Homo sapiens: one gene and its partners. The protein of the gene in region 4 purifies or fractionates together with the protein of the main gene of each other region. This does not show direct contact. Each region holds a gene or a part of one and is shown on either strand. Other genes may lie near its edges. The genes, in order: EIF2A, CALU, BCAT1, DUS3L and SERPINE2.

Region 1 (3,554 bases), on a different chromosome or scaffold from region 4:
GAATGAAATTATGCGTAATGAGCACATAGTACCAAAACCAGAAAAAACTCATGATTTATAGTAGTTGTGTGGATTTTTTTCGTCTCAAGTGAAAGGCTCTCAGTGGCTACATGATGCTCATAAGCGTGGAAGAGACTTGTAACTTATCTTTTCTTCTTGTATCATTTTTCATCAAAGTTCTGAGCAGAAACTTTTCGGCCAAAGTAAACTACTACAGAAGAGCCCACTATTGAAAGAATTTTCATATTATGTATAAAACAAATGTTCAGCAAATATTGTATAACTTAAGTAGCATTTTATGCAACATGGATAAAAATGAAATGAAAGAGCCTTGCACTCCAAATTTGTCTGCTGTTCTACAAATGTGGGTTCTCATAATATTCAGTTTGTTTCAAGTAGAATATGAACATACCCAGAACTTTGATGACCTGAAATAGTTAATGCATTTGCTAAGATAAGGTCACTTTATGGTTTCTTATTTATTACTCTGCATCTTAAGTGTTTGAGCTCTGCTCATTTCCATATAGAACTTATAAGTAAAATGCGGATCTGAGACCTAGTACTCAAGAAACTTCATGGAGAGCTGGTACTTTTGATGTGCTGAGTTATGGTACAGTCTAAGAGACAGTTAACATTAAAATAATAGCAATATAGATAGAAATCAGTAAGTACCTGAATCTGATAGAGAGTTGTAGTGCCATCACTTATACTGTATGTTGTCTAAAACTGTTCTGGAGATACATTGAATCTATAATTCACCATCTTTTCTATTGTGGAATATAGTTGTTACATGGTTACATGAATATCTGATGTTGGAAATGATTGTCTTCATTGTGTAATCTGACAAGCCATGTAATTTTTTTTTGGTCTCTTCATATGTCAATCCCAGATTTGTAATTATCTAGTTAATTACTCCTTTCTATTTCATTTATTTTCTTATAATCTATTCTTGTTTTTTCATTTGCTTTTATTTTTAATCTTCTAATTTCTGATTTTACAAGTAAAGATCTAGCAAGTAATTCTTTGTGTGAAGAAAACAAGCGAGGCAACTGGGTTTCTGTTGACAATAGTTAGAACCAAAAAGGCCTCAGAAGAAGCTGTTGTTGGTATCTAGTTTTCATAAGAATCATGTGTCTGTAGTAGTGCTAAGAAAAATTCTGTTTGAACAAAACTAAAGTGAATTTTGCCAGCTCTGATATGATTGAAAGATATAGGAACTAATAGGAAGACCCTAATTAAATCCATCCTGACAGTTGGAGTGTGCCACTACCAATGAGTTTCAAAATAATCTTTGCTAATGATCTTAAATTTGATAAAATAAGTTTATCCTATATTAGCAGAAGTGTATAATTTGTTGTTGTAGGTGTTTACAACATGGACTCCATTTCAAAATTATTTTACATTTTCCATAGCATGAAGAGGAACCACCTCAGAATATGAAACCACAATCAGGAAACGATAAGCCATTATCAAAAACAGCTCTTAAAAATCAAAGGAAGCATGAAGCTAAGAAAGCTGCAAAGCAGGTATTTGGGGCACTAATCTCATAACAAAACAAATAGTCAGTTATGGCCGGGCGCAGTGGCTCACGCCCGTAATCCCAGCACTTTGGGAGGCTGAGGCGAGTGGATCACTTGAGGTTAGAAGTTCAAGACCAGACTGGCCAACGTGGTGAAACCCTGTCTCTACTAAAAATTCAAAAATTAGTTGGCCATGGCTTATAATCTCAGCTACTCAGGAGGCTGAGGCAGGAGAATTACTTGAACCTGGGAGGTGGAGGTTGCAGTGAGCCATGATCGCATCACTGCACTCTAGCCTTCCAGCCTGTGCGACAGAGAGAGACTCCATCTCCAAAAAAAAAGGCAGTTAAGTTAGCTTTAAGCCTTAAAGTTTAAAGAATTGTGGTCCTAAATACTTGACTGTGACCAGGTGTGGTGGCTCATGCCTGTAACCCAGCACTTTGGGAGGCCAACGTGGGAGAATTGCTTGAGCCCAGTTCGAGACCAGCCTGGGCAACATAGTGAGACCCCCATCTCTATGAAAAATTTTTTGCTGGGCACAATGGCGTGTACCCCGTAGTCCCAGCTGCTTGGGAAGCTGAGATGGTAGGATCACTTGAGCTTGGGAGGTTGAGGCTGCAGTGAGCTGTGATTGTACCACTTCAGCCTGAGTAACAGAGCAAGACCATGACTCGAAAAAAAAAGAAAAAAAGCACAAAAAACCTTGGCTCTTACGTTATAAAATGTAGTTGGAGTTAGACTTAAATAGGCAGAATATCTTTCTTTTGTCTTTGCCTATGAATTTCTAAGTAATCCTGTCTATATGATGGGTGACAAAAGAAACTGGACTTGACATCATAACCTGAGACACTAATGGTATTATGTAAGCATGTTACTTGCTGTAGACCCTTTTGGTGGCACTTGTGTGAAGTGGTGTAGTTTGCTTTCCTTGAAGCATGTATTTACTAAGAGAAGCTGGAAATTACATGACTAGAAAGCCATTTGGGCACTCAGTATTATAGTACTATATGAAATTATTTAACTGGGAATCGAAATACCAGAAGTACCCAAATAATGGGATATTTCCAAAATAGTTTCTTACTTGATTACGTAGTTGAAAAGCCACACCAGTGTAAATAATTGACAAATTGTGATATTGTATAGCTCATGGTGATAATGTGATTGGCTGGGCTGGGGATGTCTGGTTAGTGAAGTTATGGTGATCACATTTTTGCAATTCAGGTAGAGTACATGTCTCAATCCATTCAGGCTGCTACCTTATACTAGGTAATTCATAAACAAATTTATTGCTCACAGTTCTAGAAGCTGGGGCGCTGGCAGATTTGGTATCTGGTGAGAACCCGTTCATCATAGATGGCACCTTCTTTCTGTGTGTCCTCCCATGGTGGAAGGGGCAGTGGAGCTCTCTTTGGTCTCTTTTATAAAGCTACTAATCTCATTCTTGAGTGTGGAATCCTCATGACTTAATCATTTTCCAAATGCCCCACCTTTTAATACTATTACATTGGGTATTAGGTCCCAAACTATGAATTTGAGGGAAACACCAATATGTCAGACTGTAGCAGTGGGGTAGGGTTTTTGGATGTTTTGTTTTTGTTTCTTTTGAGACACTCTGTCTCACTCTGTTATCTAGGCTGGAGTGCAGAGGCATGATCACGGCTCACTGCAACCCCAGACCCTGAGCTCAACTAATCCTGCCTCAGCTTCCCAAGTAACTAGGACTGTACATGTACACCACCATTCCCAACTAATTTTTTTATTTTTGTAAAGATAGGTTATCGCTATGTTTTTCAAGCAGGAAATGGGAGTAGGTTTTTTTGGTTTGGTTTTGGCTTGGTTTTTTTTTTTGAGACCGAGTTTTGCCATGTTGCCCAGGCTAGTCGCAAACTCCTGAGCTCAAGCAGTCTTTCCACCTCAGCCTCCCAAAGTGCTTGGATTACAGGCGTGAGCCACTGTGCCCATCCTAGAAAGGGCAGATTTTTAACAGCTGGTTGCTATATCAGTATAGTCTTGCTGATAATTCTTGAATTTTGA
Region 2 (3,554 bases), on a different chromosome or scaffold from region 4:
AATGCTGATGGTTTCATTGATCTAGAAGAGTATATTGGTAAGTCTCTGCTTTTAGTGTTTTTCTTAGAAAAGCTGAGAAGCTTTGAAAGGTGTATTTGCTGGCTGGGCACAGTGGCTCATGCCTGTAATCCCAACACTGGGAGGCCGAGGCGGGCAGATCACCTGAGGTCAGGAGTCCAAGTCCAGCCTGGCCAACATGGGGAAACCCCGTCTCTACTAAAAATACAAAAAAATTAGTTGGGTGTGGTGGCGGGCGCCTGTAATCCCAGCTACTCAGGAGGCTGAGGCAGAAGAATCGCTTGAACCCAGGAGGCGGAGGTTGCAGTGAGCCGAGAACACGCCATTGCACTCCAGCCTGGGCAACAAGAGTGAAACTGTCTCAAAAAAAGAAAGAAAGAAAGATGTATTTGCCCATAGAAACAATTTACTCCAAGGGTCAATTCTCACTAGCTCATTAGCTGTCACCAGATCATTAACCAGACCAGTGTGATAGTGGGTTGTGATAAAGTATCCGTAGCCACATTGCCCAATCAAAATATAAATGTGAGCCCCATATGTAATTTTAACTTTTCTAATAGCCACATTAAAAAGTAAAAAGAAACAGATGAAATTTCAGTAGTTATTTAACCTAATATTCTAAAACTCTATAATTTCCACTTAATGTAAATTATTGAGGGTTTTTTTTTAATACTTAAAGCACATCCCAGCCACATTTCAAGTGCTTAATAAGCACCTGTGGCTACCATCCTCAACAGCACAGATATAGTGTATCCTGCATGCTCTATGGAACTGATGGTAAAGAGTTGCAGGGGGCTGGGCACGGTGGCTCACGCCTGTAATCCCAGCACTTTGGGAGGCCGAGGCGGGCGGATCACAAGGTCAGGAGATCGAGACCATCCTGGCTAACACAGTGAAACCCTGTCTCTACTAAAAATACAAAAAATTAGCCGGGTGTAGTGGCAGGCGCCTGTAGTCCCAGCTACTGGGGACGCTGAGGCAGGAGAATGGCATGAACCCAGGAGGCAGAGCTTGCAGTAAGCTGAGATCATGCCACTGCACTCCAGCCGGGGCTACAGAGCGAGACTCCGTCTCAAACAAACAAACAAAAAAAAGAGTTGCAGGGAGCCCAGACTGACATAGGGAAACCCAGGGAAAGGAGATAGGGAATAGATTAAAAGATGGATAAATAAATGACGGGGAGTTGCTGATCCCTCTTGTAGCCATTCCTTTTTACTGTGTTCTGTTCATATTTTCTCTCTGATTCTCTGACTACTTTCCTTTTGTTTTTTAAGTTTCTCCCTTTTGACATTTCCCTTTTTAGTTGTCTAAATTTTTTTAAAAAAATTGTTTTGGATGTCACACCTTCAAGGCTAATTTCTCCCAAGTAAAGCTCTGTTTTATTATCATCAGACTAATTTTAAGATATTCTCATTGCTTTAAAAAAAAAAAGCTGTCTTTCTTACCAAGTAGTTGAGCAAATTGTTTCCCAATTACTGTGACAGAAATTAAAATGAGTAAAGGAGCTGGGTGTGGTGGCATACCCGGTTACTTGGGAGGCTGAGGCAGGAGGATCACTTGAGTCCAAGAGTCTGGACTATAGTCACAAGTTCATCATCAATATGGTGACCTCCTGGGAGCAGAGGATCACCAGGTTGCCTAAGGAGGAGTGAACCGGCCCGGGACAGAATCAGAGCAGGTCAAAACTGTGCTGATTAGTAGTGAGGTTGTGCCTGTGGATAGCAATTGTACTCCAACCTGAGCAACATAGCGAGACTCCATCTCTTTAGAAAAGTGAGTAAAGATGGAAAGTATAAGACTGTTACTACAAATGTCATTGTTACAAATACTTTGTTTAGAAAGATATTAGATATTTTAATATTTCACATACTTATTGTCATTTGTAATAACTTATTCTAGCACACCATTGGTTTTGTGTTTCAGATAAGCCCGTTTGTTTTTAGACCTCTGATAGTTACCTGAAATGTTTATTTGAAGCCTGAAAGGAAGACTTAATCCTTACCTCTATCACCTGTCATTAAACTGTATGGAGCAAGTCACTGCTTTACTTAGATGTTGTCTTATCATACCTGTTGTTTACATGCTAGAGTTATTCCAATTGAATTACTCCTTGACTGTTTACCTCCCTTTTCTTAGGTTCAGTGGCATACTTTGAACTTTTTAAAGAAGGATGAGCAATGGAAGATAGGATGGATGTTTTCCTAAACTGATTTTTTTTTTTTTTGGAGAAGTTTATCAGGACAGTGGATAAGTGCCTAGGTGCATTTACTGAGCCCACGTTGATGTTACTAGGGTTTTCTACTTTTAAATGATTTATCTTTTTATTCTTGGCTTTTGCCATTTTATTGCCATTGCTAAAACTGAGGAACTCATTTGAACCTCCCAAGGAGAGGAATTTTTATAACTGTTAACTACATCACTTATCAAGCATTGAGGCCAAATAAGGAGATATTTCTGTCTCCCTGTGTATCATATAGATTCAAGGGCAGAGGAGTTATATTTTGAAGCTACCAAAACTATCTTGTGCATGTGTGCTTTTTTTTTTTTTTTTTACAAGTCAGTAACTAATGCAAACACTTTTACATCTGGGATGCTGGGCTTTGTAAATCTAAAATTCTCCCAAACAGTATCTTTCAGCTTCTAGTGCCCTGTTGAAGGAGATCATGAAGAAACAAAGTTCTTCGCCTCATAAATTTAGCATTAAAAAGAAGCCCCATCAGTGCCTGTGGAAACATAGGGAAAGAAAAAAAAAAACACCCAAAGTTGTGCTGATAATTATTTTTATTTTTAAAATTTATTATAGAGCATTGCAGACGTACACAACTTATTTGTTTATTTATTTATGTTTTTTTTGAGACAGTCTTGCTCTGTCACCCAGGCTGGAGTGCAGTGGCGTGATCTCCACTCACTACAATCTCTGCCTCCCAGGTTCAGGCGATTCTTGTGCCTCAGCCTCCTGAGTAGTTGGGATTACAGGCATGCACCACCACACCTGGCTAATTTTTGTATTTTTAATAGAGGCGGGGTTTCACCATGTTGGCCAGGGTGATCTTGAACTCCTGGCCTCAAGTGATCTGACCACCTTAGCCTCCCAAAGTGCTGGGATTACAAGTGTGAGCCACTGCACCTGCCCCCAAATTAGAATAGTATAATGAATCCCCATGTACCTATGCCTAACCTCAACAACAATCAACTTACAGCCAGTTTTTTCTCAGCCACATCCACTTCCTTGCTTCCTTCTTACTTTGAAGTAAATCCCAATCATTATGTCATTTCATCTGTAAACATTGAGGTATATATGTCTAAAATATATATGTGTTTCTAAAAACATTTTTTTAAAGATAATGTCAACCCAAGAAAATTAATAATACCTTCAAATCATCAAATAGACTGAGTCTTTTAAAAATAGAAATTCGGCCGAGCATGGTGGCTCATGCCTGTAATCCCAACACTTTGGGAGGCTGAGGTGGGCGGATCACAAGGTCAGGAGTTAGACACCAGCCTGACCAACCTGGTGAAACCCCGTCTCTACTAAA
Region 3 (3,554 bases), on a different chromosome or scaffold from region 4:
AAAAGATGGCTGGACTTGGGCCAAATATACACCCTTGTTACAATCAGCTGTGGCTAAGGTGGAGTCACCTGCAAAGAACATGGCCATACTGGCCTTCTCCTTTGACAGGTACAACAGGTAGGGGAAGTTATCTAAGTGGGAAGTAGGAAGGCTAGGCACCCCAAACTCCTACACTCCACTAAGAAATTGCATATTAACCTTGGCTAAGAAAACACCCACACACACTTCCAAACTAGTTGAAGATCGAAGAAATTAGGGTGCATATGGTATGAACCGAGTTCTATTCTGTAACTATACACCTTAGATCTTGATGGGATGAAACAGAGAAGAAAGTGATAACTTATGTGCTGTGAACAAACAAACCATTGGTTGTTTATCTCTTGAACTAAAAGTGGAGATTTTCAATATTCAAATGGCAGCGTGAAGCTTCTGCTTATATAGTTTCATATCTCAGCTGACTGCAAAGGCAAGAGCCAATAGCCCTCCACTGCTCTGAATAACTAAACCATTTCAGTCTTTTCTACCTGTCTTCCATGCTATATGCACTCTATTGTCCTGGCTTTAATAACCAATAATTTAGATATAAAACTTTGTGTCTATATGTGTTTGCACATTTTGCAAAAGATTGGCCATACTTTTCATAAGATTTACAAACTGGCCCAGTGCAGTGACGGATGCCTGTAATCCCAGCACTTTGGAGGCCAAGGTGGGTGGATCACTGGAGCCCAGGAGTTCAAGACCAGCCAGTGCAACATGGAGAAACCCCATCTCTACAAAAAATACAAAAATTCACCGGGCGTGGTGGCACATGCCTGTGGTCCCAGCTACTCAGGGAGCTGAGGCAGGAAGATCACTTGAGCCCAGGAGGTTGAAGCTGAAGTGAGCCATGATTGTACCACTGCACTCCAGCCTAGGTGACAGAATGAGACCCTATCTGGAAAAAAAAAAAAAAAAAAAAAAAAATTTACAAAGTGGTGTCAGACCCAAGAAAGCCTAGAACCTGGAGAGATCAATAGCACAATAGACTAGGAGTCTGTCTACTTTCTCATTTTGCTCTTTTATTTGTATTATTTATTTATTCTTAAGCAATTCTAGTAAGTTTTCTGATGCTTTCCTTAGAAGAATGTTTTCAGTTAAAGTAGTTTGAGGCCGGGAGCGGTGGCTCACGCCTGTAATCCCAGCACCTTGGGTGGCCGAGGCGGGCAGATCACGAGGTCAGGAGATCAAGACCTTCCTGGCTAACATGGTGAAACCCCGTCTCTACAAAAAATACAAAAAATTAGCCGGGCGTGGTGGCGGGCGCCTGTAGTCCCAGCTACTCAGGAAGCTGAGGCAGGAGAATGGCGTGAACCCAGGAGGCGGAGCTTGCAGTGAGCCGAGATCGCACCACTGTACTCCAGCCTGGGTGACAGAGCAAGACTCCGTCTCAACAAAAGAAAAAAAAAAAAGTAGTTTGCATGGCATTTAGAAAATGGAAAGCAAAAGCACCAATTAAGCAAGGAAGTCTTGCCTCAAACCTGCATGTGTTTCTTCTATAAACACCAGCACTATTCTTATAAGTGTACAGAGCACTCACCGACACTGAAAACCATGGAACCCTGAGTCATGTATTATGCTTCCCCATGTAGACTTCGCAGCTGTCTTTTAACTCTACCTTTTATCTTCAAAGTTCAAGGAAACATTTATTATGATTTCAAATTCCTGAACTCACATCTAGTCCTAAAGTCAAAACAATATAACTTGGTATCTAAATCAACTGAAATGAAATGAAATGCACTTGGCAAAATCACCCTTTTATGTAGTGGTGGAATGCTAACAACTGCCCTGTGACCATCCTGTGCAAATCCACCCTTGGCCTCATCCCAGGATATACCCAAACTTCGTCTCAACTGTGTCTCTTTGTCAGTCACGTTAAGAGACAGCTGTGGAATGTTTGGTCTAGAATATCCCAACAGGTGCTCCTTCCGTCTCAACTTCTATGGAGTCAAATAGAATTTGATCTGTAATCCTATGTCCCAGGCTTCCTAAGTCTTCCTAAAGCAGATATCCATTTATAGTCAAAACAGCAAAAACAGTTCTCACACTGAGGGATAAACCGTAAATGCAATTGATGAAACATTCAAATCTACACACCGAAATAAAGAACTGACAAATGAATTTGTTCTTTTTAGATTAAAGACTATTCTTAATGGAACTAGCTGAGTTTTGCAAGTATTTCACAACTTTCAATAAGAAAGAGCCATATGTTTTTCAGTATGACTTCAGTTTATTACTTGTAATTTCCTCTATTTTTTTCTTTATTGGTCTTCCCTGTTTCCATTCTTCCATTTTCCTGTATTTTTGGGACATAACTGTCTCTTTCTTTTAGAGTTTGTTTTTCCCATTAATTACTGAACACAAGAAAAATGTTTTGCAAAATAGTCTTTCCCACCAAAAAGGTATAACAGTAGAAAAACGTTTATGTGACATGCTATGCTGTATTCATAAGGTAATCTAATTTCCAAGCTATTTTAAGGATATGAGTACTCAATTTTTAGGGGAAAGATAATTTAGCTTTGTGGACTTTAGAGCACAAATTATAAGCATAGTTGAAACTGATACCTGAACCTGGTGTTCCAGAAAAGACAGATTCTCCTTTGCGTTCACCATTGACATTGTGAGTCACTGACAAGGTCTTATGATGAAACTGTTTACCAATATTTGCAAAGTCATGTTTATGAATAAAAGCACCTAAATGCTTAATTTTGAAACATTTAAAAAATGTGAGTTGCACCTCACATTTATTTCTTGGCTGAACTGCATACAATCCCATTGCAGTGGCCTTAGTTGAATGGACAGAGGCTCAGGAAAGGCCAACAGTAGGAACATTTACCATATGTTAGGTGAAATGTATAGACCAGTTGGACAGCTGTTAAGGGGATAATGTTACAATACAAAAGCTGCCTATATTTTTGACAGTAAAATGAGCAGATCAGCCATAGTTTCCTCCTGTGCTCAAAAAGAATGATAGCACATGCCTGTAATCCCAGCACTTTGGGAGGCCGAGATGGGCAGATCGCTTGAGGCCAGGAGTTCCAGACCAGCCTGGCCAACATGGCAAAACTCCGTCTTTACAAAAAAATACGAAAATTAGCTGGGCATGGTGGTAATCCCAGCTTCTCAGGAGGCTGAGGCACAAGAATTGCTTGAACCTAGGAGGCAGAGGTTGCAGTGAGTAGAGATCACTCTGCGGCACTCCAGCCTGAACAACACAGTGAGATTCTGTCAAAAAAAAGAAAAGAAAAAAGAATGATAGCATCATATAGAAAGTAGAGGATAGCTGGCACAATTATGTCTATCATGGAAGGTCCCAGATTCTCACTCTCCAGTATAGCAACCAAACCTTCCTGAGCATAAGGCTGATCATGCCACTGGGTTTCCCTGGGGTGGGCATCTGTTATTTAAAGAAACTGTGGTTACCAACACTAAAGGGAAATAAAGAAAGTTCTTTATTTTCCAACTTCCTATACCAGTTGAGAAGAGGCCATTTAAAGAAGCTGGCAACCTGAAACCCC
Region 4 (3,578 bases):
GAACGGTTTGGGGTGCTGCATGGGGCAGCGGGGGGCCCGGTCCAGACAGGCCAGGAGGGCGGCAGTGGGAGTGCAAGTGGCCCAACCGGAGAACAGGCTGAGAACCTGGTGGGGTTCTGTTTGCCTGGTTACTCGGGGCAGCGGGTTCCAGCCTGCAGCGCGCCCACTGGTTGGGGTTCTGGGTGTTGGGGGCAAGCAGGGGCAGACGTTGGCAGACATGGTCATCACCATGGGAGGGAGGATTCTGGGCCAGGCCTTTGCCTCTTCCAGCAACACCCCCCTAACAGCTTTGAGGCCGCCTCCTCCAGGCAGGCTGCCCTGATCCACACCCACACAGGCTGAGGCCCCCCGGGTCCTCAACCCGCTACCTTCTTGGGGGTCAAGGCCTCTCTGGGCACCAGCAGCACCCAGCTTGGGGCAGGGCCCATGGAGGCAGCTAAGAGGTTTGGGGAAGGTGGGGGCCGAGGAGGGGCTGCTTCAGGGTCACAGAAAGGCCTGGATTTTAAAAGAATAAAATTTATTGTACTCTCCTCGCCCCAGGGTGCCCCTGGGAAAGCCTGAGGCTACTTGTACGCGTTGGCCTTGTGCTTCGGCAAGAAGGCGAAGCTGGGGGGCACTGGCCCAAGGAGCATCTCGCTGTGGGAGAGCAGGTGGAAAGCGAGGTCAGGCCCAGGACCTGCAAAGTACCCTCCGTGACCCCGGGCCCCCGACTGCAGCTCCCCAACTCCAGCCCACCCAGGCACCTGATGCGGATCCAGTCGGCTGCCTTCTGGCTGGCCATCAGCGTCTCCAGGTAGTCGCGGCCCAGGTAGTAGGGCGGCCGCTCGTTGATCCTCTGTGGGAGCCGCTCCAGCAGCCCCACGGGCACGTACCTGCGGCGGGTGGGCGGGCAGGACAGGCTTGAGTCAGCTCTAACCAGCCGCGGCCCACGCGCCGCCCACCCCAGCCAGCCCCGGTGCCCACCGGCACAGGAAGGACAGCCACTCGAGCAGAAAGCGCCGGGTCTTCTCCACGCCCTGCGTGTCCGAGCCCCAGTGCTCCAGGCCGTAGTTGGTGAAGTCCCGCAGGATGTCCAGGCGCTCGGACGACGAGATGTCCCAGTGCCGCTGCTCCTTGATCTCCGTGAAGAGCCACGGCTTGAGCAGGGCGCCACTGTGGGACGGGTGACGATCAGTGGGCCCAGCCACCAGCCTGCCTGGGATCGTGTGGCCTCTGCTTCCATGGCCTGGCCTGAGCCGGAGCCCAGACCACAAAACCTACAAGCCTAGTAAGCCTCCCAGCTGCATGCACACAACCTTCAAAGCACAGGACTTTCTTTTGTTTTTTCTGAGACGGAGTCTGGCTCTGTCGCCCAGGCTGGGGTGCAGTGGTAAGATCTCGGCTCACTGTTCAACCTCCGTCTCCCAGGTTCAGGCAATTGTCCTGCCTCAGCCTCCCTAGTAGTTGGGATTACAGGCGTGTACCACTACACCTGGCTAATTTTTGTATTTTTAATAGAGATGTTTCACCATGTTGGTCAGGCTAGTCTTGAACCTCCGACCTCAAATGATCGGCGTGCCTTGGCCTCCCAAAGTGCTGGGATTACAGGCGTGAGCCACACACCTGGCCAAAGCCCAGGACTTTCAACCCACAATCATCAGATCCCACAGCAGCAGCAATTTCCAGTCCCCTCTGCCGCAACGCAGCTGCAACTCCTGACATCGCTCTCTGCTCCTCCCATCTTGGGACCAACAGCCCACCACAGAACAGGGGTGGGTGACGGCGTGTTGGGTTCAGGGCACTGCTGCTGTGCATGAAGCTGGATCTCTAACATCCCTGGGCACTTACCGGGCAATCATGATCCCGGTGACACCAGTCTGCATGGCGCGGTTGGCATCCTCAAATGACAAGATGTCCCCATTTCCTGAGGAGACAGAGGCTGGGGTCTCAGGGAGACATGGGCAGGTGGGACCCTGGAGTTCTGCTCACCAGCCCTTCAGGAGTTTTGGCTGACCCAGTGGCTCCCATCAGGGTGGTACGAGGGGGTCCCAAGTGGGAAGGCGAACAGCCCAGAGGTGTGAGTGACCAAGGGTGGTAGGGGAGAGGGAGGTGGCTTCCCGGAACACCCACCGAACAGGGGCATGGGGCTGGCGGCCTGCACGCACTCCTCGATGTACTGCCAGTCGGCTAGCTTGGTGTAGCGCTGCTCCCGAGAGCGGCCGTGGAGCTGGGGGAGAAGCCGCCACGCAGGGTAGGAGGCAGAGAGTGAGACGCAGAGAGGAAGAGACCAAGAGAGCCAGGCTGAGAGAGACAGAGAGAGACACAGGCGGAGACAGAGGGAGGTGTGGAGGTGAAGAGGGAGGGATGGGAGGAGAGGAGCCATTAGGAAGGGACGCGGGGTCGACCGCGAGGCCCCAATGCCCGAGGCGTCCCAAGACCCACCGTGACGAGTGCCACGCCCCAGTCCCGCAGCTCGGGCAGCAGGCGGTGCGCCAGGTTCACACGCTCCTGGACGCCTGTGCGGATCTTCACAGTCAGCGGCACATCCAGCACCTACAGGACGGTGGTGGGAGGTGGTGGGAGATGGTGGGAGGTGGTGGGAGACGGTGGGAGGTGGTGGGAGACAGGGCCCGGGGGAGTTGTTTGGGAGCCAGTGCGAGGATGTGGCTGGCCGTACCTGGTTCATGCCACGGACGATCTGCTGGAACTTGGTGGAGCGATTCATGAGGGCACAGCCCCCACCCTGGAAGAGACAGGCGGGTGGAGGGAGGGCAGGACGTGGGCTGACCCAAGACCCCTCACCCCTGCTGCCCGGAGGCCCCCACCAGGAGACGCCGACCTGCAGGAAAGGCAGGGACTCCAGGGCCACACTTGAGCCCAAACCCCTGACCCTCCACCGAGACATCGCCGGCTGGGTCAGTGCCTCCCTGCCCAGATGGGGAAACCGAGGCACACGTCCAGGGCCGCTACCTTCTTGTACACGAGGTCGATGGGGCAGCCGACGTTGATGTCCACAAAGTCCACCTCCACGGTGCGGCTCAGCAGCTCGGCACACTTGGTCATGGTGTCGGGGAAGGCGCCCTCCAGCTGTAGGTGGGTAGTGGCAGAACAGGAGGGTGAGGGGAGAGTCCGAACTGTCCCCACTTGGCCGTTCCCTCCCCACTGGGGGGCCCTGAGCCAGTGGCCTCCTCTCTCGGGGCCTCCCCGGAAGGAGCCAAGGTCTGTCTGCGAGGCACCGGTCCCCGGCCACGGCCATCAGCCCCCAGAGGTGGATCAGGGCATCACCCCCACTCCACAGCTGAGGCCAGGGGGTCAGGGAGGCAACCAGGGCAGACCTGGAACCTGGCTCTGAGACAGGACGGCCGAGGGCCCCTCCACTCTCCCTCCCTCGGGGTGGGCACTGACCTGGACGCCAAAGATGTCCTCACACTGGTGGCGTTTGAGTAGGGCCCACTCGGACATCTGGCCCTGCAGCAGGTTGGTGCAGACGGCCATCTCTCCACATGTCACATCCGCCCCGAAGCGCTTGCAGATCCGTCGGAAGGGCAGGTTCCCACACTGCGGGGGGAGCAGGACAGACACACATGCTCTTGCACGCG
Region 5 (3,554 bases), on a different chromosome or scaffold from region 4:
GCATCCTCTGATGACAGTAACTGACATTTACACACACACACACACACACACACACACATATACACACATATATATACGTGTGTGTGTGTGTGTGTGTGTGCATATATCTCCATATATCCCCAAGGCCAAGTAGGTCACAAATATTCAAGAAACCTATATTATACCCAAATATAATACCGTGTCACCTATGCCTAATCTTTGCTCCTGTTTTAATAGTAAAATACTTTCAGAATCTCAAAAGGGGCTGGGCGTGGTGGCTCACACCTGTAATCCCAACACTTTGGGAGGCCGAGGTGGGCGGATCACGAGGTCAGGAGTTCCAGACTAGCCTGGCCAACATGGAAAAACCCCGTCTCTACTAAAAATATAAAAAATTAGCCAGGCATGGTCGTGGGTGCTTGTAATCCCAACTACTTGGGAGGCTGAGGCGGGAGAATTGCTTGAACCCAGGAGGCAGAGGTTGCAGTGAGCCAAGATTGCACCATTGTCCTCTGGCCTGGGCCACAGAGCAAGACTCTGTCTCAAAAAAAAGAATCCCAAAATGAACTATCAGGAATGTTTCTCCTCTCTTTTGACCATCTCCAATCCCAATAAGGATGGCAGGTCTTAGAGCAGCCAAGATGGATATGGAGAACTTTAGTTGGATATGGGGAAGAATAATAGATATTCCAGAGTACTAGGAACTTGTTAACACTCAACCTCCACGTCAGTATAAAAGAAAGTATGTTTGTAGATCTTCCTAAGTATTGGAACAGGGGGCCCATTACACCTGAGGGTGGGAGCGCCTATTCTTGCCGTTAGTACATATGACTCATTTTGCCAGCTAAGTGTTTGAGAGAGGAGTTGTCCTTTACTTATCTGGTATTTAAATTTGGAATTCAAATTTAAGATGCAATTCAGATCGGTATTCAGATATTAACTTTAAAAGAATCAGTTTGTAAACATGCACCGACTCTATCATGTAGCATTTATAGCCTCGTGATTTTTTTTCTCCATTTCTGCTTTCATGCTAGGTTCACAGCTGTAGCACAAACAGATTTGAAGGAGCCGCTGAAAGTTCTTGGCATTACTGACATGTTTGATTCATCAAAGGCAAATTTTGCAAAAATAACAAGTATGTTCAATTTAAAATGTATTTGTATACTTGAAGAAAGTGTTACAAACTGAGACTGATTTGTGCAGAGAAAAAGGATCAGAATTAGGAATGTGTTGCCCTGAAACTGTACAAGGTTTCATTTGATACATTGCCAAATTATGCTATTGGCCTTCGTTTATTTATTGACCTTCATTTATTTATTTTTTCCTTTTATCTTTTTATTTCAATAGTTTTTGGGATACAAGTGGTTTTTGGTTACATGGATCAGTTTATATAGCGATGAAGTCTGAGATTTTAGTACACCCCTCCCCCGAGTAGTATACGTTGTACTCAATATGTATTAATAGATTTTTAGCTCCTCACCAACCCACCCTCCTCCTTCTGAGTCTCCATAATCCATTATACCACTCCGTATGCCTTTGCATACCCGTAGCTTATCTCCCACTTACAAGCGAGAACATACAGTATTTGGTTTTCCATTCTTGAGTTACTTCATTTAGAATAATGGCCTCCAGCTCCATTCAAGTTGCTGCAAAAGATATTATTTCATTCTTTTTATGACTGAGTAGTATTCCATGATGTGTACATACCTCATTTTCTTTATCTAGTCATTGCTCTTGACCTTCATTTAAATCAGCGTCCCCACATTTTGCACGTACATTTCATGGGAAGCCCCAGTGACTACCTAAAGGAGTATTTCATGTATTGCTTTTATGAATATTGGCTCTGACTTAGGTGTTGTCGCTCTGTTTTCAAATGCCAACTTTTTCCTTTTGCTTGAAAAAAAGTCAAGACTGCAGTCATTCACTGTACCCAGATATGTATTTTGGCATTTCATGCTCATTAATATGAAACGATATAAATTCAAATGAATCTGATTAAAACTTTCCTTTGCCAAAGCAATTAAGGCATGCTTTTCATTTGCCAGCAGTATATGTACCTTTTTCTAGAGTTATGTTTGAATGGTCAGTCCTTTGTTCTTTAAATTTAGAACATAGCAATCTTTCCAAGGAAAAGCCATGGCTTGAACATTATTTGCACTCCAGTTTGCAAATAACTTTGAGTGGTAAGAAATTAGCTCATTACCAGCTTCAGTTGCATGCTAGTAAACACCTAGTACCTGTTCTGGGGACAAACATGACTCCCCTGGTGAACCTGCAGCTCCATGGATATTCTGATAGCCGTTCATCCCTCATGACTCAAACTCAGGCCTCCAGCCCAGCAGCATTAGCATCACCCAGGAGCTTGTTTGAAATGCACAATCTTGGGTGTAACCCAGACCCACTGAACCAGAATCCATTTTAACACAGTCCCTCAGCCCAGCAAAGACTGAGAAGCACCATTTTCATCTGCACTTTTCCCTTCAAGGTTGTTCATGGTAGCTGAAATACTAAATGGGGGGTGTTCACAGGAAGAACCAGGTGCCCCAGATTCTCCTGGAAAGTCCTCTTTAACACTGCATGTGACTTGGGCCCTATAAATGTGCATCTCAGTCACAATTTGGTCATATTAGAGCTGGGCATTGGTGCAGATAGTTCACAAGCAGATGACACAAAAAGCACATTTTCCCTTTGCATCCAGACCTATGTCCCATCCAGACTAATATCAACTTAAGTTTTTCATTCTCTGTGAAAGCTACACCCAGTGGGTGTTGCTGGAATGGTCAGAATTTGCTGAGAAGTAAAGTGAGTTCACCAGAATGTCCCTGAGGCACAACTGCATTTACACATCGGCCCTTCCAGGAAAATCTAAACTCTTCTCTTGTTCGACACTCTTCTCTTACTAGCATGCCCATGAGATGAGTGGCTGTTGTGAAGAGCCAGGACTTACTCTGCCACTAACTAGCCGTATGATTGCAGGGAACATTACTTAACGTTCTAGGCCTCAGTTTCCCCATCTGTAAATGCTGTCTGAAATCCCTTCTGCATCTGCATTCTGTAACTGAAAAATAATCTTGTTGCCTTGCTGCTTCCAGAAAACCGGGCTTCCTTTTTAAAGCTCTGCTCTTTTCATTTTTAAAAAACAATTCTAGTGATCAGAATTGAATTGATAGAGGCACTAAATCATTTGAGGGCCTGGGCCCTTCTCCAGAAGTGAGTATCACAGTTCACTTAGCAGGGACTGAAATTCACAAGTAACAGCTGTCTGCAGCCTTCAACACCAGGACTGTCAGAGGTCATGTCTTCTGACACTTTAAAAATTGGAATTTGCCATGGCTTTGAGCTTTGAGGTTACTTCCCCAACCAACCAATGGCCTGCCTATCAAACAAATGCTGATACTGTTTTATTTTCTGGAAGCAGGGTCAGAAAACCTCCATGTTTCTCATATCTTGCAAAAAGCAAAAATTGAAGTCAGTGAAGATGGAACCAAAGCTTCAGCAGCAACAAGTAAGCACTGGGTCACGTGGCAGGGCTTCCTCTAGCAGGGGAGCAAACACATTCCTGTATACTCATTGGT

What was found.
Region 1: the proteins of DUS3L (region 4) and EIF2A fractionate together in Homo sapiens (co-fractionation; one large-scale study listed by BioGRID). This does not show direct contact.
Region 2: the proteins of DUS3L (region 4) and CALU fractionate together in Homo sapiens (co-fractionation; one large-scale study listed by BioGRID). This does not show direct contact.
Region 3: the proteins of DUS3L (region 4) and BCAT1 fractionate together in Homo sapiens (co-fractionation; one large-scale study listed by BioGRID). This does not show direct contact.
Region 5: the proteins of DUS3L (region 4) and SERPINE2 fractionate together in Homo sapiens (co-fractionation; one large-scale study listed by BioGRID). This does not show direct contact.

Annotation. Positions count from the first base shown.
Region 1 is NC_000003.12:150,574,237-150,577,790, forward strand, and holds part of EIF2A (eukaryotic translation initiation factor 2A), read left to right. Parts: intron 1-1,412; coding exon 1,413-1,526; intron 1,527-3,554. UniProt on the Homo sapiens protein: Functions in the early steps of protein synthesis of a small number of specific mRNAs. Acts by directing the binding of methionyl-tRNAi to 40S ribosomal subunits.
Region 2 is NC_000007.14:128,759,816-128,763,369, forward strand, and holds part of CALU (calumenin isoform a precursor), read left to right. Parts: coding exon 1-37; intron 38-3,554. UniProt on the Homo sapiens protein: Involved in regulation of vitamin K-dependent carboxylation of multiple N-terminal glutamate residues. Seems to inhibit gamma-carboxylase GGCX. Binds 7 calcium ions with a low affinity.
Region 3 is NC_000012.12:24,942,556-24,946,109, forward strand, and holds part of BCAT1 (branched-chain-amino-acid aminotransferase, cytosolic), read right to left. Parts: intron 1-3,554.
Region 4 is NC_000019.10:5,784,640-5,788,217, forward strand, and holds the end of DUS3L (tRNA-dihydrouridine(47) synthase [NAD(P)(+)]-like), read right to left. Parts: intron 3,538-3,578; coding exon 3,385-3,537; intron 3,067-3,384; coding exon 2,950-3,066; intron 2,723-2,949; coding exon 2,657-2,722; intron 2,533-2,656; coding exon 2,422-2,532; intron 2,281-2,421; exon of another isoform or gene 2,207-2,280; coding exon 2,110-2,206; intron 1,904-2,109; coding exon 1,828-1,903; intron 1,153-1,827; coding exon 964-1,152; intron 873-963; coding exon 744-872; intron 637-743; coding exon 564-636; 3' UTR 501-563; downstream 1-500. Other genes in the region: PRR22 (proline-rich protein 22), read right to left, coding at 1-21. UniProt on the Homo sapiens protein: Catalyzes the synthesis of dihydrouridine, a modified base, in various RNAs, such as tRNAs, mRNAs and some long non-coding RNAs (lncRNAs). Mainly modifies the uridine in position 47 (U47) in the D-loop of most cytoplasmic tRNAs.
Region 5 is NC_000002.12:223,980,241-223,983,794, reverse strand, and holds part of SERPINE2 (glia-derived nexin isoform b precursor), read left to right. Parts: intron 1-1,013; coding exon 1,014-1,114; intron 1,115-3,394; coding exon of another isoform or gene 3,395-3,397; coding exon 3,398-3,484; intron 3,485-3,554. UniProt on the Homo sapiens protein: Serine protease inhibitor with activity toward thrombin, trypsin, and urokinase. Promotes neurite extension by inhibiting thrombin. Binds heparin.